Linked DNA regions of Homo sapiens. The protein of the gene in region 4 purifies or fractionates together with the protein of the main gene of each other region. This does not show direct contact. Each region holds a gene or a part of one and is shown on either strand. Other genes may lie near its edges.

What was found.
Region 1: the proteins of GRAMD4 (region 4) and NAT10 purify together in Homo sapiens (affinity purification with mass spectrometry, with the first as the bait; one study listed by BioGRID). This does not show direct contact.
Region 2: the proteins of GRAMD4 (region 4) and MAP3K7 purify together in Homo sapiens (affinity purification with western blotting; one study listed by BioGRID). This does not show direct contact.
Region 3: the proteins of GRAMD4 (region 4) and CSDE1 purify together in Homo sapiens (affinity purification with mass spectrometry, with the first as the bait; one study listed by BioGRID). This does not show direct contact.
Region 5: the proteins of GRAMD4 (region 4) and EIF2S3 purify together in Homo sapiens (affinity purification with mass spectrometry, with the first as the bait; one study listed by BioGRID). This does not show direct contact.
Region 6: the proteins of GRAMD4 (region 4) and ACIN1 purify together in Homo sapiens (affinity purification with mass spectrometry, with the first as the bait; one study listed by BioGRID). This does not show direct contact.
Region 7: the proteins of GRAMD4 (region 4) and SDHA purify together in Homo sapiens (affinity purification with mass spectrometry, with the first as the bait; one study listed by BioGRID). This does not show direct contact.

What each region holds. Positions count from the first base shown.
Region 1 is NC_000011.10:34,136,629-34,140,128, forward strand, and holds part of NAT10 (RNA cytidine acetyltransferase), read left to right. Parts: intron 1-13; coding exon 14-147; intron 148-349; coding exon 350-398; intron 399-2,562; coding exon 2,563-2,659; intron 2,660-2,756; coding exon 2,757-2,867; intron 2,868-3,500. UniProt on the Homo sapiens protein: RNA cytidine acetyltransferase that catalyzes the formation of N(4)-acetylcytidine (ac4C) modification on mRNAs, 18S rRNA and tRNAs.
Region 2 is NC_000006.12:90,552,573-90,556,072, forward strand, and holds part of MAP3K7 (mitogen-activated protein kinase kinase kinase 7), read right to left. Parts: intron 1,015-3,500; coding exon 886-1,014; intron 1-885. UniProt on the Homo sapiens protein: Serine/threonine kinase which acts as an essential component of the MAP kinase signal transduction pathway. Plays an important role in the cascades of cellular responses evoked by changes in the environment.
Region 3 is NC_000001.11:114,737,485-114,740,984, forward strand, and holds part of CSDE1 (cold shock domain-containing protein E1), read right to left. Parts: intron 2,407-3,500; coding exon 2,208-2,406; intron 589-2,207; coding exon 479-588; intron 80-478; coding exon 1-79. UniProt on the Homo sapiens protein: RNA-binding protein involved in translationally coupled mRNA turnover.
Region 4 is NC_000022.11:46,672,386-46,675,885, forward strand, and holds part of GRAMD4 (GRAM domain-containing protein 4), read left to right. Parts: intron 1-457; coding exon 458-612; intron 613-990; coding exon of another isoform or gene 991-1,113; exon of another isoform or gene 1,114-1,261; intron 1,262-1,284; coding exon 1,285-1,429; intron 1,430-2,271; coding exon 2,272-2,365; intron 2,366-3,082; coding exon 3,083-3,167; intron 3,168-3,500. UniProt on the Homo sapiens protein: Plays a role as a mediator of E2F1-induced apoptosis in the absence of p53/TP53. Plays a role as a mediator of E2F1-induced apoptosis in the absence of p53/TP53. Inhibits TLR9 response to nucelic acids and regulates TLR9-mediated innate immune response.
Region 5 is NC_000023.11:24,064,956-24,068,455, forward strand, and holds part of EIF2S3 (eukaryotic translation initiation factor 2 subunit 3), read left to right. Parts: intron 1-1,042; coding exon 1,043-1,137; intron 1,138-3,008; coding exon 3,009-3,153; intron 3,154-3,500. UniProt on the Homo sapiens protein: Member of the eIF2 complex that functions in the early steps of protein synthesis by forming a ternary complex with GTP and initiator tRNA.
Region 6 is NC_000014.9:23,064,137-23,067,636, reverse strand, and holds part of ACIN1 (apoptotic chromatin condensation inducer in the nucleus), read left to right. Parts: exon of another isoform or gene 1-277; intron 278-1,628; coding exon 1,629-1,671; intron 1,672-3,148; coding exon 3,149-3,282; intron 3,283-3,379; coding exon 3,380-3,500.
Region 7 is NC_000005.10:249,320-252,819, forward strand, and holds part of SDHA (succinate dehydrogenase [ubiquinone] flavoprotein subunit, mitochondrial), read left to right. Parts: intron 1-1,672; coding exon 1,673-1,784; intron 1,785-2,018; coding exon 2,019-2,149; intron 2,150-3,500. UniProt on the Homo sapiens protein: Flavoprotein (FP) subunit of succinate dehydrogenase (SDH) that is involved in complex II of the mitochondrial electron transport chain and is responsible for transferring electrons from succinate to ubiquinone (coenzyme Q).

The DNA.
Region 1 (3,500 bases), on a different chromosome or scaffold from region 4:
GGCATCTTCCCAGGCTGTCAGCTTGTTGGAAGAGGTCATCACTCCCCGGAAGGACCTGCCTCCTTTACTCCTCAAATTGAATGAGAGGCCTGCCGAACGCCTGGATTACCTGGGTGTTTCCTATGGCTTGACCCCCAGGCTCCTCAAGTAAGTGCCTGCCCTCCTTCCACGGCATCACTCCTTGGCATTGAGAAAGAAGAGTTCTGTGGGCTGTGTGTCTCTGTTGGTAGCTGGTATCGGTGCTAGCCTGCTATTTGTGGCGTGCTCTTCCTGGCTCTTGCCCTTGTGTGTCTATCAGCCACTCCCCAGAGGCCACACACAGTGACCTACTGTCTTTGTATCTTTGCAGGTTCTGGAAACGAGCTGGATTTGTTCCTGTTTATCTGAGACAGACCCCGGTGAGTGAGGCATCCAGCAGAGGAGAAGTTTAGGTTTACCGTTATGGTAGGTGACAGGCCTGTCCTTGCAAAGAGCCCTAGTGCCTCCCTGCTGCATCGCTCTGAGCAGGTGGCTGTGCCTCTGAAGAGGTTTATTCTGATGGACATGGAAACAGCCATCCTCAGTGACAGGCCACATCATCACACATTTCTTCTCCGACTACACGGTGCATGCGTTGAGCTTAGTCATAAAATGGCAGAGGTACACGTGGACTTGTTCATCAGATTCTGGGAAAGGAGAGTGGACAGGAGGATCAAGGGTAATTCCTAGAGTTTTGGCTTGAGAAACTGGGTGTTGGAGGTGCTGTCGGAGATGGGACTCACTGCAGGAGGAGCAGATTTGGAGGGAAGAGTGGGAGTTCTTTTTTGATGTTAATATGAGATGCCTATTGGACATCCAAGTGGAAATGTGGACTAGGCATTCATTTGACTACAGGAATTTGGAGGTAGGGAAGTTTGGGGCTAGAGATGGAGCTTTGGGAGCCATCAGCATATTCATAATAGAATGCACTGCAGGAGGGCACGGAGCTCTTGTCTGTTGTGTTCATTGCTGTATTCCTCGCACTTAGAGTAGCAATTGCTGTGTAGTTTGTGTTCAGTAAATACTTTTGTTGAGTGAATGAAAAATATCTGGAGCCAATGAAAGGATGTGAGAGTGACTCCTTGGACCCTAACGTTTAGAGGAATGAAGAGGAGGACACAGCACATACAAGACTGAGAAGGAACAGCCCTGATGCGCAAGAGAAAGTCGGGTGTGGTGTCACACGTCAAGGTGAAAAAGTGGGAATGGGAGTCAGCCCTGTTGAGAGGATGAGGAGGATGAGGACAGCTGGCCATTGGATTTGTCAGCAGCGGTGAGCTGCATTGAAGCAGCTGCAGTGGAGTGGAGGCTTTGGCCTGGCCAGAGGGAAGAGGAGGTGAAGAACTAGAAGGGGAACAGGCGACTCTTTCAGGAAGCGAAAGGGAGCAGAGAAACAAGGTCGCTGGAGGGAGATGGGCGCTAAAGAAGGATTGTCCGATGGGAGATTCTAGAGAATGTTTTTTGCTGCTGGGTTCGATCCTGCAATTAGTGGTATGGGTGAGGGGGGCTGACTGCCAGAGTGCAGGCCTTGAGGAGGTGGTGGGTGGGACTCGAGATTCAGGAAGAGAGGTGACCACCTACTTCATCCTTCGGAACAGGGAAGGCAGAGAGCGTGGGAATGGAAGGCATCAGTTGGCTGGCTGATCTGGGGTTGGGAGGATGAAGACATTGTCTTCTGAGTGCTTCTGTCTTCCCAGATGAGGGGAGTCCATCGGCTGAGAGGGAAGTGTTGGAGGTTTGATTTTGGAGAGGGCAAAGTCAGTATCAGAGGCTAGTGTCCAGTGTCCGTCCGAGGGTTTAAAGTGGGACTGGTGAGGACTGCTGGGTGTTGGGCTGCTTCCGTGCAGGCAGGGAGCTGCAGAGATGGGTTGAGTCTCTGTCAGTACATTTGGTGGAGGCTGAGGATGTAAGTTTGGCTGTCAGCTGCAAGGAGAACGCAAGCTAGTGAGCTGTGGTGTGGTCTGCGGTGTGTCCGTGTGGTCTTGCACTGTGCACTGTTCATTTGTGACTTGGTGGTGTTTTTATGGTGTGGGGCTTTGTTGTTATGGAGTAAAAAATGTAAAAATAGTCACAATTTTAACACCTAAAGAAGCCTGCACTTGCAGACTGGCTGCCAGCACTGAGGTGTAGGTTTTGGCCCTGGAGTTCCTGCTGTGAGGCATCAAACCCATGTTGACTGGATTGTGTGGCGCTTAAGCCCTAATGACTGAGTTCAGCATCTACCTGAGAGGAGCACATATTTCCCTCCCGCACGTCCCGAGCAAGAGGCAGGCCCAGAAGAGCCAGCAGCTCTTCTCTGTGTCTGTGACACTTTTGAGGAGATTGCAGGACAGTGATCTTTGCAGCTGTTGTGTGTGAACTGAGGTGATATGAGGAAGGTGAAGGCGAGGGCTGTTTGAGAAGGGCGCCTACCCCCAGCCTGGAAAGAAGGAGAGGCCTGCGGAAGCACTAAGCCTTTCTTCTCTGAGTGTTTACCCTTCATCAATGATGGGTTATTCAAAAAAAGGGGGTTCTTGGTGCCAGTTAAACCTCTGTGTTGCCCAGAATGACCTGACCGGAGAGCACTCGTGCATCATGCTGAAGACGCTCACTGATGAGGATGAGGCTGACCAGGGAGGCTGGCTTGCAGCCTTCTGGAAAGGTGACTGAGGAGTAGGGGTTTGGGGGAGACAATGAGGTGATTGGGGGCTGCCGGGGATGCCTCCAGACCTCTAACTCTGCGTGATGGCACCCCACAGATTTCCGACGGCGGTTCCTAGCCTTGCTCTCCTACCAGTTCAGTACCTTCTCTCCTTCCCTGGCTCTGAACATCATTCAGAACAGGAACATGGGGAAGCCAGCCCAGCCTGGTGAGCCGGGTGGGGACAGGGAGGAGGGTTGGGAATGGCTTGGCTGTGTGGGAGGTGGGTGTGGTGTCCTAGGAAGGGTTTGGGCTGGAAATTGAGGGACTGGTTCTAGCCTGCAGTCACTCGCTGGTCACCACCCGCTTGCCAGGCCCCTGCTCTGTCCCAGGCTGTGCTGTCTTTCATTTTCATGGTAAGACTCTGGCTGTGCAATTTAATGTCAGAGGTGTCCATTTAGTTCATGTAGCTGGTTGGTTATGGAGGCCGATTTACATCTGTGCTCTAGGGGAGTGAGGTGCTCCATCTCTGAGGTTTAGTTTCCTGATTCATGAAATTGTAATAAGAATATGCTGCTAGCCTTCTGTAGCCAACAGCACACAGAAGTGCTTTGTGCATACAGATTGTTTGAATACTTAAAAAACAAAAAATGTGTAAGAGATTAGTTTTATTGCATATTTTATATATAAATATTTAGGTATAGCATGCATATATGTGTATATGTGTGTGTATATACTTTTTTGCCAATTATATTTTGATGGAGAAATCCGTATATCTTGAGCTGGGCAGAGCTTACACACTTTCTGTGACACCAAATGAAGTGACAAAGCAGGGAAAGAGTGTAGTTGTGTTCCCCTAACC
Region 2 (3,500 bases), on a different chromosome or scaffold from region 4:
TTAGACTTGTGGAATAATGTAAAAAATGGCCATTAGTCACATGATTATAAACAAGGCATAGAAATGAAATAACTAAGAGTGGCGCTAAAATTAAGAAGGTAAGTAATTTTCCTTCATGAAAAGCTATTTTCCCAAGCAAATGTAAAGTAACTTTACTAATGAAGAGGATGCATTCTAACATCATATGTGGTTAAAAACAACATTACCAGAACTATAAAAGAAACAGGACAGATGCAAGGACATTGAGTCCATAAGTCAATATGACTTAAGATATGAGCATTCAAGTCAGAAGCATCTGGATTTGAATCCCAGCTCTACCACTTACTAATCTTGTGACCTTAAGCAAGTTATTTAACCTCTCTAGGCCTCAGTTTCCTAATCTGTAAAATGAGGCAACAGTACTCACCTTCTAAGGGTGGGTGAGAATATAAACAGGAAAAATATGTGAAGCATTATTATTCTTTGCTTCTTCTCCTTGATGAGGCCCTTGCTTCTTCAGGAGAAAAGGGCTATAACTCTCCAGTTATATTAACCATGTCAGAGATTTTATGTATGTATTTTTTTATTTTTTCCATGATCCAGCCTGATGCTTCTCCCTAAGAGAGAGCCAACTGTCTAGGTTGCGTACTGATGGCCTTTCCCTAATCAGCGGAGCCAGTGAACATCCTCAGCCGCATGTGTAGACCAGGACTACTCTCAATCCTGCTCTGCTGGACTCTGGGGCAGGGACAGGGCAGAGTCTGATAATAGCAAAGCAGTCTCTTAACAAAGAATTGTACATTTTAATGTTAGAGATAAATGATATTCTTTAGGGAAGGGGACAGGAGTAGTCTTCCAAGTAGAAAACACAAAAAGTACTTTTAAGAAAAATTTCTTTTTACGAACCATTATGAACAGCCCACATGATTCGGAAAGCTGGGCCACCAATCTCATCAAAGGGTTTCCGACGCGTTATCACTTCCCAAAGAATAATACCCCAGCTGAAGACGTCACATTTTTCACTGTAATTACTACCTAGAAAAAAAAAAGGTAGTATATAACCTAAAGACTATTTTTCCACATGACTTACAGAAACAATGGCTTAAATTTTGAGAATGGGTATCAGGGATAAAAATGAGGCTGTCACATGTAGAACTAAGAAACTACTCTTTCTGAAGTACTTTGTCTTTTCAACAAGTACATTTTTAAATGAATTAAGTATCAACAATACACTAAAAAACTACTTCAGAAACTCAGTTATTTTCTATCTTTTTTCATCAAGAGGCAGTTTTTTCATCAAGAGGCACAGGACTTGACTTTTATGTATTTAGACTGATACTTTCTCTGGGGCAGAGTATGAAACATCTGTACATTCCTTTATGTTGTTTATTATTATTTTATTCTGAGACAGGATCTCACACTCTCATCCAGGCTGGAGCTCAGTGTAGCCTCAAACTCTTGGGCTCAAGTGATCCTCCTGAGTAGCTGGGGCTACAGGCATGCGCTGGCACAACTGGTTAATTTTTTAAATTTTTTGTAGAGATGGGGTCTTGCCATGTTGCCCAGGCTGGTCTCAAACTCCTGGGCTCAACTGATCCTCCTGCTCTGGCCTCCCGAGGCGCTGGGATCACAGGCATGAGCCATTGTGCCTGGCCTCCTTTCTGTTACATTTTAATCTTAAATTTTCTTCCCACTCTGACAGACAGCACTACTCTGCTATCAAAGCAGAAGAACTTTCTAATTTAGTGTTACAGTTTTTTCCTCAATATATGGTGAAGGGAAATTCTTAATTTATAAACTTAAACATTACGTTGTAAGTAACGAAAATTATGGATAACCTGAGTTACACAGCAAAATTTACAAACTAAGTAGGTGGTTGAATCAGCCAGCACAATAAGCACCCGTCATAATCTCCCAAAAACAAACAAACACTCAACTCACTGTAAGAATGAACAATTATTATAGCTATAGCTTTACATGCTAAGCAGTACACTGTAATATAGCACTACAACCATGCTACAGTCTAATTTGGGCTACAGGTTGACTGACATCTTTCAGAAATGAAGAAACTTACACAGCCTAACAGTCTGCATTTTGTTGCTCTAGACAATTAAGGGTTGTCTAGAGCAATAAAATTAATCTTTTGTATAAACAAATCTTTTTGCTCTCCACATACAGTAACATTGGGTCATTTTAACTCACATAAAGGTATATTAAATAAGTAAATAATTTTAAAACAATGTCAAATGTATACATTCTGTATATGAAACAGGAGGCATTATTTAATCTTGTGTAATATAACACCTGATTATTCATTTATTACTAAATTGAATTTTAGGGCAAAAGAGCTCCACTCAGGTGACTAGTTGCATTGCAATTTCTCTTCCTCTGGGGTGGCTAAAAACAAACAGAAAACCCTTTAAAGTCATCAAAACTGAAAGAAATAAGCTATAACCAGAGTCTGATTAACTGAATGTATCTGAATTTTATGGGCATTTACACTTCCTAACATACAAATCACATACCTTCAGTTCAACTTCTTTCATTTAAAAGATAATTTGATGTTTTTATACAGAAACCTAGCATATAATTTACAGACAACTCTTTTAAAACTTCAGTGACATATGGAGGTATAAAAGAAGGTAAACATATAAGCTTGACATTTATTTGTAATTCTTAGTATCTTATTTCTGTCCAATTACTTGCATTCTTTTTTTTTTTTGAGATGGAGTCTTGCTCTGTCACCCAGGCTGGAGTGCAGTGGCACGATCTCGGCTCACTGCATGCTCCGCCTCCCGGGTTCACACCATTCTCCTGCCTCAGCCTCCCGAGTAGCTGGGACTACGGGCGCCCGCCACCACGCCCGGCGAATTTTTTGTAGTTTTAGTAGAGATGGGGTTTCACCGTGTTATACAGGATGGTCTCGATCTCCTGACCTCATGATCCGCCCACCTCAGCCTCCCAAAGTGCTGAGATTACAGGCCTGAGCCACCGCGCCCAGCTATTTGCATTCTTTTTAAGGCATCCTCATTTAAACTTTAGGGCTCTCAATTTTTAATTGCTAGGAAACCAATACAAAAGCACAGTTAATTCTCATTATTCCTGGTATTTATGTTCTATAAAGTTTCTGAGAACACTGAATTAGTGAACACTGAATCACTGCTCCTAAGGAAAATACAGGGGTAGGTTCCTGTGTGCCTCTGGTCACCATGTTTTTGTCAACTGATCAATATATAGCCTTGTTTCATGCGTATTTCTGCTTAAAGACACCTTATTCATATATACTGTTGATTTATTACCATTGAACTCATAGTCAACATTTCTGTAACTCATGCCTGAATGAAGATAATTTAACATATGTATATTGTCTGTTAAGATACATCATAGCCTTCTTGTACTTAGGCAGTACTATGCTTGAGGGCCATTTTAAGTAGCAAAATTACCAACAAAAATCACAAAAATGAAAAAGGGCTCTGAACAGCACAAAAAAGGACACCTGCTTACAGCATGAGAGCTGAAAC
Region 3 (3,500 bases), on a different chromosome or scaffold from region 4:
AGCATACACTCCCTGTTGGACTCTGACCCGGGGCAGCTGGAGATTTACTCTCTAAGTTGTGAGGAACAGCGCACACAACCTACCAGTCAAAAAAAAAAAAATTTCCATTGCTAATCATTTCAGGAGCAGCACTGTGCAATATAAACTGAATTTTAATATCCTCTATACTATATACAGGGATGCATTTTAATATGATCCACAAGAGGATGTCATGCTGCCAAGTTTCAAACTTACAGTATGTAAATTGACTGTAAGCATTGACTCAGGGTTATATGTAAAAACCCAATTGAGTCTTGACCATATTTTTATTTCAGGTCAAGAAATGCCAGTGCTTTTGATTAATTTTAAAATAGTAATCTTTATATACTATAGCTCTCTTTCGTGCAAACTGAGGAGATGGGGAGAATCTTCCTTTTCTAATGTGAAAGATATGCAAATGCAGGGCCCTAAAAAAACACAAAGCATCAAAGTCACTAACTTGTCCATTCATTCGTTCTTCAGGGAGGATTTCTTGTTTTATCTTCACCAGTTTAACAGCAATGGGTTTCCCAGTCCGTCGGTCCGATGATACTTCAAATTCAACATCATCTAAAAATAAATAATGTGTTATGTTTGTTGAACTGATTTTTGCGAAACGATATATTGCTTCCAAGCTATACTTAACATAGCATTTGAATTGCCTTAGACCAGTGGTTTTCAAAGTGTGGTCCCTGGACCAGCAGCATTAACATCACCTGGGAGCTTAAAAGAAATACTGGGCCTAACTCTAGTCCTAGCCAAAGACAAACTCTGGGGATCAAGTATAGCAATCTGTGTTTTAACAAGCCTTCCACTAATTCTGATACACACAAATGTTTCAGAACCACCATCTTATGCTAAGATAGCCATGTCTTAATCTTAGTTTTTATGGCATTTACACATACTACAAATGAGATGACTTAACAATCATAACCTTTGGCGAGTTTTTTTTTTAAACTCCTCTGTACCTCAGTTTTCTCTTATGTAAAAGGAGAATAATTCCTAACAGGACTGCCATGAGGATTAACCAAAACAATGTTCCTATAGCATGCATCTTGTTAGCTATTATACTGACTCTTTTCTCAAACGTTTTTTAAAAATGCACAGAGGCCTCATAATTTCAGTCCTTTAGTAAGCCAAACACTTCACATGTAAAAACTTTTTTTTTTTTTTTTTTTTTTTTTTTTTGAGACAGAGTCTCCCTGTCACCCAAGCTGGAGTGCAGCGGCACGATCTCAGCTCACTGCAACCTCTACCTTGCGGGCTCAAGCGATCCTCCCACCTCAGTCTACTTAGTAGCTGGGACTACAGGCACATGTCACGTTCCTCAGCTAATTTTTGCATTTTTTGTAGAGATGGGGTTTTGCCATGTTGCCCAGGCTGCAAGCTGGTCTTGAATTCCTGAGCTCAAGCAATCCACTTGCCCTGGCCTCCCAAAATGCTGGGAATACAGGCATGAGCCACCATGCCAGGCCTGTGAAATAATTTGTATGGTGTCAGCCACAATGAATTTCCATATAATCTAAGAGGTGACTTTTTTTTTTTTTGAGACGGGGTCTCGCTCTGTCGCCCAGGCTGGAGTGCAGTGGTGGCATCTTGGCTTACTGCAAGCTCCGCCTCCCAGGTTCACACCATTCTCCTGCTTCAGCCTCCCGAGTAGCTGGGACTACAGGTGCCTGCCACCACGCCCAGCTAATTTTTTGTATTTTTAGTAGAGACGGGGTTTCACCGTGTTAGCCAGGATGGTCTCTATCTCCTGACCTCGTGATCTGCCCGCCTCGGCCTCCCAAAGTGCTGGGATTACAGGCGTAAGCCACCGCGCCCAGCTTCTAAGAGGTGACACTCTAAGGATTACTTTTTTCAGGTACTACCCAAAATAGTACCTGACAGAATAATCATAAGTAACATTACAAAAGTTCAATATTCGTACTGGCTTAAAATCTTACGGGTAAACAGTCATCATTATGGGGAAAAACAATGAAATCTTCCAAGCATTTATTGTAAATATATGCAAATATAATCTTTCAAGGATTCTGCTGGTTTATACAGATATTCTTCACTAAACAGTACAACTAAAAGTCCAAAATGTTTTAATTTACATAAAACTTTTTGAAAAACACTCATGAACAAATTGATATGCAAGACAAATTTTGTGATTACATTTTTACAAAGGAGAACTGACAGATTACCTCCTACTTTTAAGTCTTGCAGGTTGCCATTATACTGTGAACAGTGGAAGAAAAGTCTAGCTTGACGTTCTGAACACTGAATAAATCCGTAAGAGGTTAACAGTTTTTCAATAACCCCAGTTTCACGCAGTGCTGCTGAAGTACCATTAGGGTACCCATTATGTCCATTGTTGTGGAGAAGGTTTGGATCAAAGCTCATCTGTTTTAAAAAGAAAAAGAATATATACATATCTGTACATTATCTCCATAGCATATTAAGTCTGGTTAATAAGTCACTAAATCTTCCATATAAAAACGCAAAAAAAAGTAAAATGAAGGGAAGATTATAGACTTTATTACTGCAGCATTAATTTAGCTAATAAAACATTTCAGAGGAAACAACTTATTATATTGGGGAATTGCCCCAAATTATGGTAGAATTTCCACTTATCAGACAAAAATAGAATTTCTGGGGTTTAATATTAAGGTATAGCAACTACATTAGCAAATGCTGCCTTTACATGAAGTGAAAATTACTAAAACAACAATTTCAGAACAAAGGTAATTAATATTAAGAGACAGCGACCACAAACTACCAAAGACTCTTAAGAGATTTGGTAACGCTATTTTGAAACTTCAGCCAATACCTTAATACTGTTTAGTAAGTCATGCATTTGGAAGGCATATTTCAAGTTAGTAGAGATTAACACAATAAAATGAACTTTCTATGCAATACTTAAACTAGAAAATTTCAGAGTAATTCATGCTTAGGTCCTTTAATGAAAGACTATCCAAAATAGTGCAGTAGAAAACTTCTGAAACAACAAAACTCCAAGACAGCAAAAGCATTTCCATTTTAAAAATGCTGAATCATTTCACAGGTACATTTAAAGAAATCTTTACCTAAAAGAAACCCTTCACTTTTTACATACTGATGAAATCTGTAACTATCACTTCGTTCCCATTCTTTAGTGAAATAGGAGCTATTTAAAAGCAATATAATGGAATCTGCCTAGGTCATAAAATACTATCACATTGGATGTTCCATTTCCCTTCTTTGAGTAAAACAACAAAAACTATAAGTGAAGCACAAAACAGGACGAAATCCTTAGCAAAGCCTAGGTCTATAATTTACCACAGTAATGACATTTCTAAATCATTACAATTATGTTTTAGACCCTTTCACTGAAAATCTGATTTATAAGTATTTCCATTTAAGTGGAATGTTGGGCATTATTAATAAAAAGGATATATTTTCACTAGGAAAAAAGAGTAACAAATTCTAGAAAGATAAACCAAAGTTTGAGTCAACGA
Region 4 (3,500 bases):
AGTTGAAGAAGGGCAGGTGGGAGGGGGTTTGGGGAGGGATTGCCATGGAGGGACCTCAGATTTGGTGTCAGGTGTGGGGAATTGGGGCAGAGGAGGCACAGTCCTGAAGTGTTTCAGGTGGGTCAAGAACAGCCCTGAGCCAGGCGGAGTTGGAGAGAGAAGTGAGGGGCATTGGATGGGGGGGTCCTAGCAGAGCTGAGGGGTCTTAGTGGGAGTGGGTGGGGCGCTGGCAGTGGGGCCCTCGCCTGGGGTTGAGACTGTGCAGCACGAATGGGCCCCAGGGGAGCGAGGCTGGGGGTATCCAGGGTGAGGACTGAGCGAGCAGCTGGACTCTCACATCCAGGCTCAGGGTGGAGGGTGCCAATCTGGGAGGTGGGAGGTGCCGGAACCATCACCCTGAGTAGACTGGCATAGCTGCAGAGCTCTAGATGGAGCAGGCTGTGTCCCCTGCCCTCAGGACTCTATGCTGGTATCAAGTTCTTCCTCATTGATTTCATCTTTAAACGCTGCCCGAGGCTGCGCGCCAAGTACGACACGCCCTATATCATCTGGAGGAGTCTCCCCACCGACCCGCAGCTCAAGGAGCGCTCCAGCGCCGCAGTCTCACGCAGGGTGAGCCCGGCCCCCAGCTGCGGGGATGGGGGGATGGGGGGCCACGAAGCCGGGCATCCCCAGGCCCACAGTGCTCTGTTCACCTCCGGCTCATTTAGAGGCTGTTTCTTCAATTTTATAGACTCCTTAAACTTGAGGGTTTTTTTTTTCCCTGTTACCACTGCGGTTTCTGAGGCTCATCCAGCCCCTCCCAAGCCCAGGGCAACACCTGGGGACTGGCCATGATGACTGAGAGCCAGCAGGCCTGGGAGTGACCACTCCATGGGGGTGCCCGGCCCCTGCCATCCCTGACAGTGAGGCTCTGGCGCTGAGACCAGGCAGTTTGAGAAGGGCCCCCTTGGAGCCACAGCCTGGCACTGGGCCATATTTCATTCACAGTCACAGGCCCTCCAGATGTGCAGCACAGCATCCCAGCCAGGACCACGGGGAATGAGCAGGCCTCGGTGCTCCCTTCGGGGTGGCTCAGATGAGTCAGGAGGGTTGCTGGGCTCTCCCCACTGAGGTGAGGTGGCCCTGCCTGGAAGAAGGAGCCGCTCTGGGCCGGAAGGGACCTCGGGAACGTCTTCCCAAATTTGGATCCCAGCTTTTGGGGAGGTGTGTGTGCGGCCAGCACATCTGGGTGCTGCAGGCGTGGGCAGCGGGCCTGACCTCGACGCTGTTTGCCGTTGGCAGCTGCAGACGACCTCGTCACGGAGCTACGTACCCAGCGCACCGGCCGGCCTGGGTAAAGAGGAGGACGCCGGTCGCTTCCACAGCACCAAGAAGGGCAATTTCCACGAGATCTTCAATCTGACAGAAAACGAGCGTCCGCTGGCGGGTATGTGTGCCGTGAGTCTGAGGCCAGGCCGAGCGCCGACACAGACTGAAGGCCCGTGAGGGGGGCGCTGTGGATGCAGGACGGGGTCGCCCTGTGACAGGCCAGAGGAGCCCTCAGGATGGCATTCACATCCCACTGCCCCAGGAGGAGTGCAGGAGCCAGGGGTCATGAGGACTCTGCGGGCTACAGGGGAGGAGGGCGTGCCCGTGGGGAGAGCCGCCCACGCTGCAGCACTCCCCTGACAGCAGGCGTGCAGGCAACACACTGGGGAGAGAGTCCAGGGCGAGGCCTCAGGGCCTGCAGGGCGCTGGCAGGGGGTCTGCCCCTGGTTCCATCGTGTCTGGAGAAACAAGAGCCACCAGGGGACAGGTGACTCAGGATCCTGGGGACAGGTCAGCTTTCCCAAAGGGAGGGCCTGTTAAACTAAACCGGGCAGCTCGAGGTGTGTGATGAGCGGCTGCAGAGGCAGCTGCGGAGAACGGAGCTTCGTCCTCTGCTGAGCCCTGGCCCTGCCGGTCTTGGTGGAGGTGGTGTCCCAGCGCCCTGACCCTGCCGGTCTTGGAGGTGGTGTCCCGGCCACACTGTGACTTCTGTTGCTCCCTGCTCTGCCTGGGTGCTTTTACTTTAAAAACCCTGCCAGTGCCTGTTGAAGAGGAAACATCTGTTTTCCACCCTCTGGGGCCACCTCACTCTTGCCGGCGCGCCTTCCTCTCACTGTGGGTGTGACGTGAGCGCGGTGGGCGGATGTCAGGATCTGAGAGTCAGGCTCCTGGGTCCCAGCGTCAGGTCAGAGGCTGGGTACTTCCAGTGGAAAGTGTGACAGGCGGGCCTTCTCCCATTAGTGTGCGAGAATGGCTGGCGCTGCTGCCTCATCAACAGGGACCGGAAGATGCCCACGGACTACATCAGGAACGGGGTGCTCTACGTCACGGAGAAGTGAGTGCAGCCGTGGGGCCCTGTGTGGCTGCAGGGGAGGGGGCGCAGGAGGCTGCCTAGGCCCTGGGATGGCGTGGCTGGCCCAGTGCAGGTTTTCCTGAGTGGTGGCCATGGCCTCTCCCATGCTCTGCTCTTGCCGGCTGTCTGGGCTCCCAGGGAAAAGGTGTTGTCTCCAAGCCGGACGTGGCCTGGGCTGTACTGCTGCCATCCCTCAGGCTGGCGGGGATGCTGTCTTCTCTGGGGCCCAAGCAGTTCATGGAGACGAGGGGCAGAGTCTCCCAAGGAGGGGACCGTGTGGGGACCTGCTATTGCTGAGGCCCTGAGTCCTTGTTGCCCTGAGTGCCTCATGCAGAGCAGTGGCCGTGAGTGTCTCACTCAGAGCAGTGGCTGTGAATGTCTTATGCAGAGCAGTGGCCGTGAGTGTCTCACTCAGAGCAGTGGCCGTGAGTGTCTCAGAGCAGTGGCCGTGTCTCACTCAGAGCAGTGGCCGTGAGTGTCTCAGAGCAGTGGCTGTGAGTGTTTCACACAGAGCAGTGGCCGTGAGTGTCTCATATAGAGCAGTGGCCGTGAGTGTTTCACCGGTTCTGTGTCTGCTGGGAAGGGAGCACCACTGTCCATCCCACTGGGGGCTGAGAGGCAGCCCCGGGAGACCCCCACCTGGTGGGAGCGTGCTCTGGTTCAAGAGCCAGGCGACGCCTCTGTCCGTTCCCCTTCCAGTTACTTGTGCTTCGAAAGCTCCAAATCTGGGTCCTCAAAGAGGAACAAAGTCATCAAGCTAGTGGACATCACGGACATCCAGAAGGTTGGTGCACCTACCCACCCCCACTAACCCCCGTGTTTTCTTCGTCACCTGACAGAGGCTGGCGAGGCTTTCCCTATAGACTTCTGCCAGCCTCTGTCAGCATCTGGGCGCCGCGGCCACGCTGGCCGGCCATGGTCCGTTTCCTTGACTTGAGTCCCCATGTCCCTGTGGGTCTGCCCCTGCCCTGGGGTCCACTTGCCTGGACCGTGTGTCTCAAAGTGGAGGGGCTGGGTTGGAGCCCAGGAGGTCAGGACCCAAGCCCCACTCTGGCTGCTGTGTTCCCCTCGTATCTGGGACCCTCCCCATAAAGAAAAGCACAGGGGCCCTGAGCCC
Region 5 (3,500 bases), on a different chromosome or scaffold from region 4:
ATTTACAGATGATTTTGTTGTTCAATTAACGAAGAACTGATACTGGTATAATTTGATCACCTAGGCTTGTGGTTCCTACACGGGGATGTAGTAGCCTTCTCGAAACAGACATTTGAGCTCCTCTGGCTTTCATCCGAGCTTCTGGTGTTTAGTAGGAAATAGTCTCCGAAGTGCAGGTCATGTAGTCCTAGTGTTTTATAGTTATAAAGCTGAATTGTTCTTACAGGAGTTACAGAGGTCTATAAAGAAAATGTCCATAATCTCTCTGTCTTCAAGTTCTAGTTCCTTAGCCCTAAAGTCAGCAAAGTTAACATTTGGTGTCCATTATTCCCACACTTTTCTCTTTGTTCATATCATCGTGTATAAACATATACACAGGCTGGGCATGGTGGCTTTCACCTGTAATCCCAGCACTTTGGGAGGCTGACGCTGAGGTGAGAGGATTGCTTGAGGCTAGGAGTTCAGGACCATCCTGGGCATTAAGGGAAGACCCCATTTCTACAAAAAATAAAATATTACAGCTGGGTGCAGTGGTGTGTACCTGTAGTCCGAGCTACTCGGTAGGCTGAGGCAGGAAGATTGAGCCCAGGAATTTGAGGCTGCAGTGAGCTATGATTGTGCCACTGCACTCCAGCCTCTATGATAGAGGGAAAAAAAAATCCATATACAGACATTGATTATTTTATTTTTCTTTATGGAAGTGGGATTATATTATGCGTGTAATTTTTATAACTTTTCTTAACAGTATGTGAGGGTCATCCTTCCAGATCATTACATATAGCTCTAACATTGTTAATAGCTGCGTGATGCTCTATAATACTGGTATACCCTATATGCCACTTATTAATAAACTTAAGTTACTTTCATTTTTTCCATCATAAGTAAGACTGCTTAATCATTGGAATAATAATAGATTTTGTTAAAAAGGCACCCCTTTGGTATAAATCTCAAATGGCCACTATTTTAGAAACATTAACATGGAAAATAATATTTCTTCTAAAGTTAAGATTAACAGAACTGACTTTAATTTGTTTTATTTTAGTTATTAGATCTTTTGATGTCAACAAACCTGGCTGTGAAGTTGATGACCTTAAGGGAGGTGTAGCTGGTGGTAGTATCCTAAAAGGAGTATTAAAGGTAAAATGGGTTTTGGTTGTTGTGATTTTGGGTTTTTTTTTTTTGTTGTTTGTTTGTTTGTTTTATCCTTGTCTTAATCAGGAAAAAAAGTATGGACAATCCAAATTGAAAAATAAAATTTTTTCCATGGTTTCTGGTATTTGATGTAGAGTTCTCTTTTTTAATATTCTTTTTTTCTCTCTTCAAACTTCACTCCTCCCACCCTTCTAGACCTCTGAATCCACAATCTACCTTCATGAGATCCACCTTTTTAGCTTCCACATATACAGATGAGTGAGAATGTGTGATATTTGTCTTTTTGTGCCTGGCTTATTTTACTTAACAAAATGGCCTCCAATTCTAGATGTGCTGCTGCAAATGGCAGAATTTTTTTTTATGGCTGCATAATACTTCATTGCATATATATATATGCTGCCATTGCTTTTCTTTTCTTTTTTTTTTTTTTCTTGAGGCGGAGTCTTGCTGTTTCGCCCAAGCTGGAGCGATCTCAGCTCACTGCAACCTTCACCTCCTGGGTTCAAGCGATTCTCCCTGCCCCAGCCTCCCAAGTAGCTGGGATTACAAGCACCCCCCACCATGCCCAGCTAATTTTTGTATTTGTAGTAAAGACAGGGTTTCACCATGTTGGCCAGGCTGGTCTTGAACTCCTTACCTCAAGTGATCCACCCGCCTCGGCCTCCCAAAGTGTTGGGATTATAGGCGTGAGCCACTTTGCCCGGCCTATATACTGCATTTTCTTTATCCATTCATCTGTTCATGGGCACTTAGGTTGATTCCATGTTTGGCTATTGTGAACTGTGCTACAATAAACATGGGAGTGCAGATACCTCTTTGATAATATTGCTTCCCTTTCTGGTGAATGTATACCCACTAGTGAAACTGATGGATCATATGGTAGCTGTATTTTCAGGTTTTCAAGGAACCTCCATACTGTTCTCCATGGTAGCTATACTAATTTACATGCTCTGATAATAGTTTTTTTTTTGTTTTGTTTTTTGAGCACAGTGGCATGATCTTGACTCACTGCAACCTCCACCTCCTGGGTTCAGGTGATGATTCTCCTGCCACAGCCTCCCGACTTGCTGGGGCTACAGGCACTCGCAACCTCGCCCAGCTAATTTTTTTGGTAGAGATGGGGTTTTGCCATATTGGCCAGGCTGGTCTCTTAACTCCTGACCTCAGGTGATCTGCCTGCCTCAGCCTCCCAAAGTGCTGGGATTACAGGCATAAGCCACCACGCCCAGCTATATTTCTTTGTTTTCTGTTATGTCTTTTGAATGTGTCTGACTTGAAAATTTATAGACTTGTAAGTATGGAGCACATTTGATGTGGTAATAGACTTGTGTGGTGGGTAGTTAACAACAGTTGGATGGTTCTGGTTTTGACAGTCTCGTTCACATCTTTTTTTTTTTTTTTTTTTAAGAATAATGATCTTTGAAATACAGGAATGATTGCCTTTTCAGTTTTATGGTCTTCCGGTTGGACCTTTATTATTATTTTATTTTATTTTATTTTTGAGACAGAGTCTCTCTTTGTCACCCAGGCTGGAGTGCAGTGGTGCGATCTCGGTTCACTGCAACCTCTGCCTCCCAGGTTCTAGCAATTCTGCCGCAGCCTCCTGAGTAGCAGGGATTACAGGTGCGTGCCACCACACCTGGCTAATTTTTGTGTTTTTAGTAGAGACGGGGTTTCACTATGTTGGCTGGGCTGGTCTCGAACTCCTGACCTCAGGTGATCCACCCGCCTCGGCCTCCCAAAATGCTAGGATTACACATGTGAGCCACCGCACCCAGTCCCTGTTGGAACTTTTGATAGGTAAATGATAATTTTGCGTAACACAGTAATTCTAATTACTAATTATATGTTTACAGGTGGGCCAGGAGATAGAAGTAAGACCTGGTATTGTTTCCAAAGATAGTGAAGGAAAACTCATGTGTAAACCAATCTTTTCCAAAATTGTATCACTTTTTGCGGAGCATAATGATCTGCAATATGCTGCTCCAGGCGGTCTTATTGGTAAGGATTTTTTTCTCATCTCTTTTAATTTGTGGCTATTTGTGGTACTTTTCATGGGGGATGGATTACCAAAAGGGACATATTACAGATTTTTAATTGGGTATTTTAATAATAGAGTAGGGTGGGGAACAATCATGTGGTTAAGCTCTTGTTTTAGGTTATAAGATGGTTTCATGGGTTTGTAAAAATTATTTTTAAACACAAAGGATACATTTTGATCAAATATAGAGTAACTCCTTTTTAGCAATATAAAAAAATAAATTTGATGACTTATCATGTAAGATATTTACCTACACTTATGTTTTTGTTAACATGATTTTTGTGCTAGATAATGGTTGCCTTTTTTT
Region 6 (3,500 bases), on a different chromosome or scaffold from region 4:
ATGTCCCTTCAGGGCCAGGACTGATGTCTCTGCCCCTTTCCCCCCTCTATCCCTCGCTGAGCCTGGCCACCGCCAGTGAACTGTCTTGACATCATGGAAACTGGGCAGCGTCCCCCCACACGTTTCCCTCCCGCCCCCCCTGCGCCCCTGGGAGGACTCTGGCAGTGCCGTGCTGACTACCACGCCGTGCGCCCACCTTTTTTGCCAACCCAACCCCCCACCAATTGCACAGCGCCTAGCAGGGAGGGCTCATTCTGATTGGACCGGCGGTTGACTAGATACAGTACACAGTGAGGTGCGATTGGCTGAACTGAAGATCCCAGGTGTGAGATGGTACCTGGAACATTTGTCATATTCCTAGTTTATTTTCTTCTTTATTTTCTTCTTCTTTTTTTAATATTTTATTTTATTTTTTTCTATATCTTTATTTTTTCTGATTTCTTTTATTTATTTATTTGGTTCATGTTTTTCCTGTTTTAATTAAGACCTTTTTTTTTGTTTTGTTTTTCTCACTAACTTACCCATCGAGAGCGGCCCAGCTAGGGGTCAGGCTGGCCCTTAACAGAGACCAAGGAGACTTGGTTAGACGACACAAACGGGGCTGCGGGTGGGGGTGGATGGGAAAGGGATTTCATCACGAGGTTTCTGCCCTACCCTTTAGAAGAGTGGTAGAGTGGTCTTAGTTTTTCCAGAAATAAGCACCTACACTTGAAAATACTCTATTCCCTTTTTCTCTCTCACTTTTCTCCCCCGCCCCCCATAGTCTTTCGTCATTCACCCACTGAGTGTTTGGGGTAGAGACTTGTCCCAAAGATGTCTTCTGGTCTTTGGCAGAGCCCCTAAGGCTTGAGCCCTGGTTGGAGAGGAAACAGTAAGACTCTGCTGGAGCTCCCTGCGGTGGCTGGAAAGTCTAAGGATCTCCTTGGGGACAATCTGCCCTTCATAAAAACCTTCCTTTATCAAAGACACCTTTGAGTTCTTTTTGCTAGCACTTGGCTCAAGAGCCTCATCTCCAGTGGGTCTGGTGCTGCCCTTTTCCACAGTGTGGTGGGGGTCTGGGCAGTCTTGACATGACAGTCTGCTGTCCAAGCATCTCAAAGCCATTGTCAGTGGGCATCAGTCTGGCCATTGAAGAAAGGAGGGTTACCTTGTTGAAGTTGCCATCCAAAGTTGGTTTTCCTTGTTTCCTCGAGTTAGCAAGGAAGGACCTGGGAGGACTAGATGACCCAGTTTGGGGCACAGTTTGTTTGGCTTGGTGTCCTCTCGACTCAGACGGTGAAAGAGGGGGTATGACCAACATCTTTAGGGGGCTGAGAGGCTACTGAACTCCTCTTCCAGCTTATTTCTGGTTAAGCTAATACACAGGTGTGATACGGAGTAGATGACTTTTCCCTGCTCTGATGTTTAGTTTTATTTTTTTCTCTAACTTGCATTGATTCTGCTTCGTTTTTGCCGTTTGCCGCTTCTGTTTTGGTCTCTGTCTGTCTCTGTGTCTCTCTCTGTCTCTCTCTCTCACTCTATCTGTGTCTTTGGAGGCTAAGCTAAGACTGCCCCATCTAACCTCCTTCCCCCCTCTCTGTGGGGTGTCTCTCTTTCTCTTTTTTTTCCCCTTTTTCTTCTTCATACAGAGCTCGCTGCCCAAATCATTCAAGAGGAAGATCTCCGTTGTCTGTAAGTCCAGCCCCAAATCCCTGATAAAAGTCAGGAATACCATAAAAACCAGCATTCATTGAGAACCAGAATTTCATTCTCAATGGCATTCTTGGGTCACTCCCTCCTGCCCCACCCCTTGTGCCTAGCAAATCTGAATCCTTTCCTATGTAGGGTTTCATTTTGGAATTCAAAACTTGAGACAATCCCCATCATATTGCTCCAGTCACATTTTAATGAGATACAGTGTGAGGTGTCTGAGACCATGTCCCATTTAGCCTTAGAGGCATTTATTCTTTCAGATACCTGAATACTCAACAAGGAATGAGTTTCAGGGACTCCTATGTGATGCTTAGCAGTTTATGAATTATTCTGGGTATTTTGTTGTTGTTTTTTTGAGACGGAGTCTCCCTCTGTAGTACCCTAGGCTGGAGTGCAGTGGTGCGATTTTGGCTCACTGCAACCTCCGCCTCCGGGTCCCAGTTCAAGCAATCCTCCTCCGCCTCCTGAGTAGCTGGGATTAGAGGCATGCGCCACCATGCCCAGCTAATTTTTGTATTTTTAGTAGAGATGGGGTTTCCCCATGTTGGACAGGCTGGTCTTGAACTCCTGACCTTGTGATCCGCCTGCCTTGGCCTCCCAAAGTGTTGGGATTACAGGCGTGAGCCATCGTGCCTGACCTTGTTTATGCGTTATTCTAAGAGAGCACCCAAGGAAATGAAAGTGCCCCACACCTCAAACAGTAACAATTTTAACATTTTCCCCAATGAGGAACTCTAGATTACAAAAGTATAATAGATGTTTATAACTTAAATATCAATCTGTAGTGTGAAAATTAAAGGAAGACCAGATCCCATCATGATCTTAGTTCTGCCTAGATGTTAGTATCACATAGTGTTCTTGTTTCTTCTGCATTTACATGTCCTTCTCAGTTTTTCTTCCACACTACTTGATATTACTGTCTACCATTAAAAGTTTAAACGGCTCATCAAACTAGCTACCCCTCCCTTACTGCTTTTAGATCAGTGTTCAGTCTGAAGCCATGGTTTCCCCAGTTCCCAAATATGATTTCTTTTCTTTTTTTTTTTTTGAGACGGAGTCTTGCTCTGTCACCAGGCTGGAGTGCAGTCAGTGGCACCATCTTGGCTCACTGCAGCCTCCGCCTCCCGGGTTCAAGCAATTCTGCTTCAGCACCCTGAGTAGCTGGGATTACAGGCATGCACCACAACGCCTGGCTAATTTTTGTATTTTTAGTAGAGATGGGGTTTCACCATGTTGGTCAGGCTAGTCTCAAACTCCTGACCTCGTGATCCACCCGCCTTGGCCTCCCAAAGTGCTGGGATTACAGGTGTGAGCCACCACACTCAGCCTCCAAATATGATTTCTTTAAGTTAACCTTTTACCAAAACTCCAGCCAGAGGTAACCTGTAGGTATTACGGTTTGAACTAGCAGAGGTCCTGAGACCATCTAACTGTTGGGTCTATTTCTTGGGGACAGCAGCTACCAAGGGGGTGCCAGCTGGAAACAGTGACACAGAGGGGGGCCAGCCTGGTCGGAAACGACGCTGGGGAGCCAGCACAGCCACCACACAGAAGAAACCTTCCATCAGTATCACCACTGAATCACTAAAGGTGAGGTGGGAGGAGCCAGGGAAGGGAGGATGAGACCTGTTAAGGTGGGAGTAGACATGGGCCCAGTGTAACGGGGTGGGGGGTATCTGTGTCCCAGAGCCTCATCCCCGACATCAAACCCCTGGCGGGGCAGGAGGCTGTTGTGGATCTTCATGCTGATGACTCTCGCATCTCTGAGGATGAGACAGAGCGTAATGGCGATGATGGGACCCATGACA
Region 7 (3,500 bases), on a different chromosome or scaffold from region 4:
GGACACGTTGGGAACAGGCCCCCCAATGTGGCCATAAACTGTCCCCAAAACTGGCCATAAACAAAATCTCTGCAGCACTCTGACATGCTCTTGATGGCCATGATGCCCACGCTGGAAGGTTGTCGGTTTACTGGAATGAGGGCAAGGGACACCTGGCCCACCCAGGGTGGAAAACCGTTTAAGGCATTCTTAAACCACAAACAATAGCATGAGCGATCTGTGCCTTAAGGACATTTTCCTGCTGCAGATAACTAGCCAGAGCCCATCCTTTTGTTTCCCGTAAGGAATACTTTTAGTAAATCTTATCACTGGCTTGCTGTCAATAAATATGTGGGTAAATCTCTGTTCAAGGCTCTCAGCTCTGAAGGCTGTAAGACCCCTGATTTCCCACTTCACATGCTGTATTTCTGTGTGTGTGTCTTTAATTCCTCCAGCACCGCTGGGTTAGGGTCTCCACAACCGAGCTGGTCTCAGCAGTAAATATTGAAAAGGAATAGATACAATTGTCATTATTTACAGATAGAATTTCCAAACAATTCCCAGGGAATAAACTGAAAAACTAACAGAAACAAAACAAGAATGTAGTAAGGTGTCTGGATAAGAGATTTGTATCTAAAAATCAGTAGCTTTACAATGTGCCAGCAGTAGTCTGCTCAGACATCAGTAAATATCTCATTCACATTTCAAAAAAAATTGAAAATGCCCTGAAATAATGTAACCAGAAATACGAAAAAAAGGATATGAAAACATGTGGCTGCTAATGGACATGAAAGAATGTAATACTAGATTCTGAGATGCAATGTTTTTCATTTGTTCTTCCTGAAAAACCATTAGGTTGATGTGCATTACAGTGTTACGATTATGTATGAGTCTAAGGAAAATCAGATGAAATGTCCAAATTAAACCATGAAGGTGCATTGGTAGAGGAAGAGAAAATTAGGGTCAGTGGAGCAAAGCACAGTTAGAGGGAGAAGCAAGGAGGAGGAGGGATCACTGAGGTGGTGCCTGTCCCACAGGAAGCAAAAGCTGACGCCTAGTTCCCAGCATACCTACAGTAAACTTCAGGTCCACTGCATAGCACGTCTCTCATCACAGTAAAACTATGAAGGAACTCAGTGTACAAGGAGCTTCTACAAGATAGGCAGAAGACAGTAGCCAGATGGGCCAAGGGCCCCAGCCACCCACGCCCCTCCCTCTCCTTGAAGACGTGCAGCTCCAACACCACCATCACCAGGGCTCTGCTCAGCTCCTCCTAGTGTGTATCACCACAGGGCTGCTGGCTTGTGTCACGTTCACCACCAGACCCCGCGTCAGGAGTCCCGCCAGGGGTGTGGAGAGGCAGCGCTGCCTGGTTGGCCGTGGAGCTGTATGGAACATGGTGCCTCACAGGCAGTCTGCTTGGAGTCCTGGACCCTGGCTGTATCCTGCTGGAAAGGATGTGTGTGGGTCTAAGATGTGTATGTAATAGAAACATTTATTTATTCAGAAGCTTTAGTCAAAACTTCATTTTTAAGTTTGGAGTAATAAACTCATAGTCTGAATTTCCTAATTTTTCTGTTTAATTTATGTAACTTTTAAGTGAAATGCAAAACAACAGGTCTAAAAGTTAAGCAGTTCTTGGTATGGCTGCTTCTATGGATTAAAAGTTTACAAATAATATTTTGTGCCACAGTCAATGCAAAATCATGCTGCCGTGTTCCGTGTGGGAAGCGTGTTGCAAGAAGGTTGTGGGAAAATCAGCAAGCTCTATGGAGACCTAAAGCACCTGAAGACGTTCGACCGGGGTGAGCAGACAGTGGGCTCTGTGCACACTGTTGGGCCCTTCCTTCTGCAGGGTGGGCTGGTGTCTGTCCCGTCAGTGCTGACTTAGTTCCGTGCTTGCTGTCTGGATGGGTCCTGGCCCACAGCTATAAAGCCACAACCAGTGACTCCATGGACTAGCAGGCCCAGGCTGACAGCTCGGAGGGCCCATGTGACTGGGTCCCGCCTGCCCCTGATGGAACTTTTTGTGTCCCCAGGAATGGTCTGGAACACGGACCTGGTGGAGACCCTGGAGCTGCAGAACCTGATGCTGTGTGCGCTGCAGACCATCTACGGAGCAGAGGCACGGAAGGAGTCACGGGGCGCGCATGCCAGGGAAGACTACAAGGTGGGCCTTCTCACCACGCCCACCTGCACCTGCCTTTTCCTGCCACCTGGTGGGACTCAGCCCCACCCCTGCATTTTCTCTGCATTTTCTTTCGTTGCCCCAAAAGTAAATCCAAAAAATGCCTTTTTCCCCCCTGGTAACTTTGATCCCTGGGTTCTCGCCATCTTCTGGATCACTGTGACCTTTTCCTTGCTTTGGGTCGGCATCCACTGATGCCAGCAGTGGCATCTCCAAGCCAATGTGCTTTGCTGTTAGAAGGCCAAGGTTAGAAGTGCAGCTAGAGTGGCAAGACCAGGAAATAAATGCCAGTTTATTAAATAACGAGTAAGCCATCATTTCAAGCCTGCCCTGTGGAGGAAATGCCAGTTTATTAAATAACGAGTAAGCCACCGTTTCAAACCTGCCCTGTGGAGGAAATGCCAGTTTATTAAATAACGAGTAAGCCACCGTTTCAAACCTGCCCTGTGGAGGAAATGCCAGTTTATTAAATAACGAGTAAGCCACCGTTTCAAGCCTGCCCTGTGGAGGAAATGCCAGTTTATTAAATAACGAGTAAGCCACCGTTTCAGACCTGCCCTGTGGTGGAAATGCCAGTTTATTAAATAACGAGTAAGCCACTGTTTCAAACCTGCCCTGTGGAGGAAATGCCAGTTTATTAACGAGTAAGTCACTGTTTCAAACCTGTCCTGTGGAGGAAATGCCAGTTTATTAACGAATAAGCCACCGTTTCAAACCTGCCCTGTGAAGGAAATGCCAGTTTATTAAATAAGGAGTAAGCCACCGTTTCAAGCCTGCCCTGTGGAGGAAATGCCCGTTTATTAAATAACGAGTAAGCCACCGTTTCAAGCCTGCCCTGTGGAGGAAATGCCCGTTTATTAAATAAGGAGTAAGCCACCATTTCAAGCCTGCCCTGTGGAGGAAATGCCAGTTTATTAAATAACGAGTAAGCCACCGTTTCAAGCCTGCCCTGTGGAGGAAATGCCAGTTTATTAAATAACGAGTAAGCCACCATTTCAAACCTGCCCTGTGGAGGAAATGCCAGTTTATTAACGAGTAAGTCACCGTTTCAAACCTGCCCTGTGGAGGAAATGCCAGTTTAGTAACGAGTAAGTCACCGTTTTAAGCCTGTCCTGTGGAGGAAATGCCAGTTTATTAACGAGTAAGCCACCGTTTCAAACCTGCCCTGTGGAGGAAGTGCCAGTTTATTAAATAATGAGTAAGTCACCGTTTCAAGCCTGCCCTGTGGAGGAAATGCCAGTTTATTAAATAACGAGTAAGTCACCGTTTCATACCTGCCCTGTGGAGGAAATGCCAGTTTATTAACGAGTAAGCCACCGTTTCAGACCTGCCC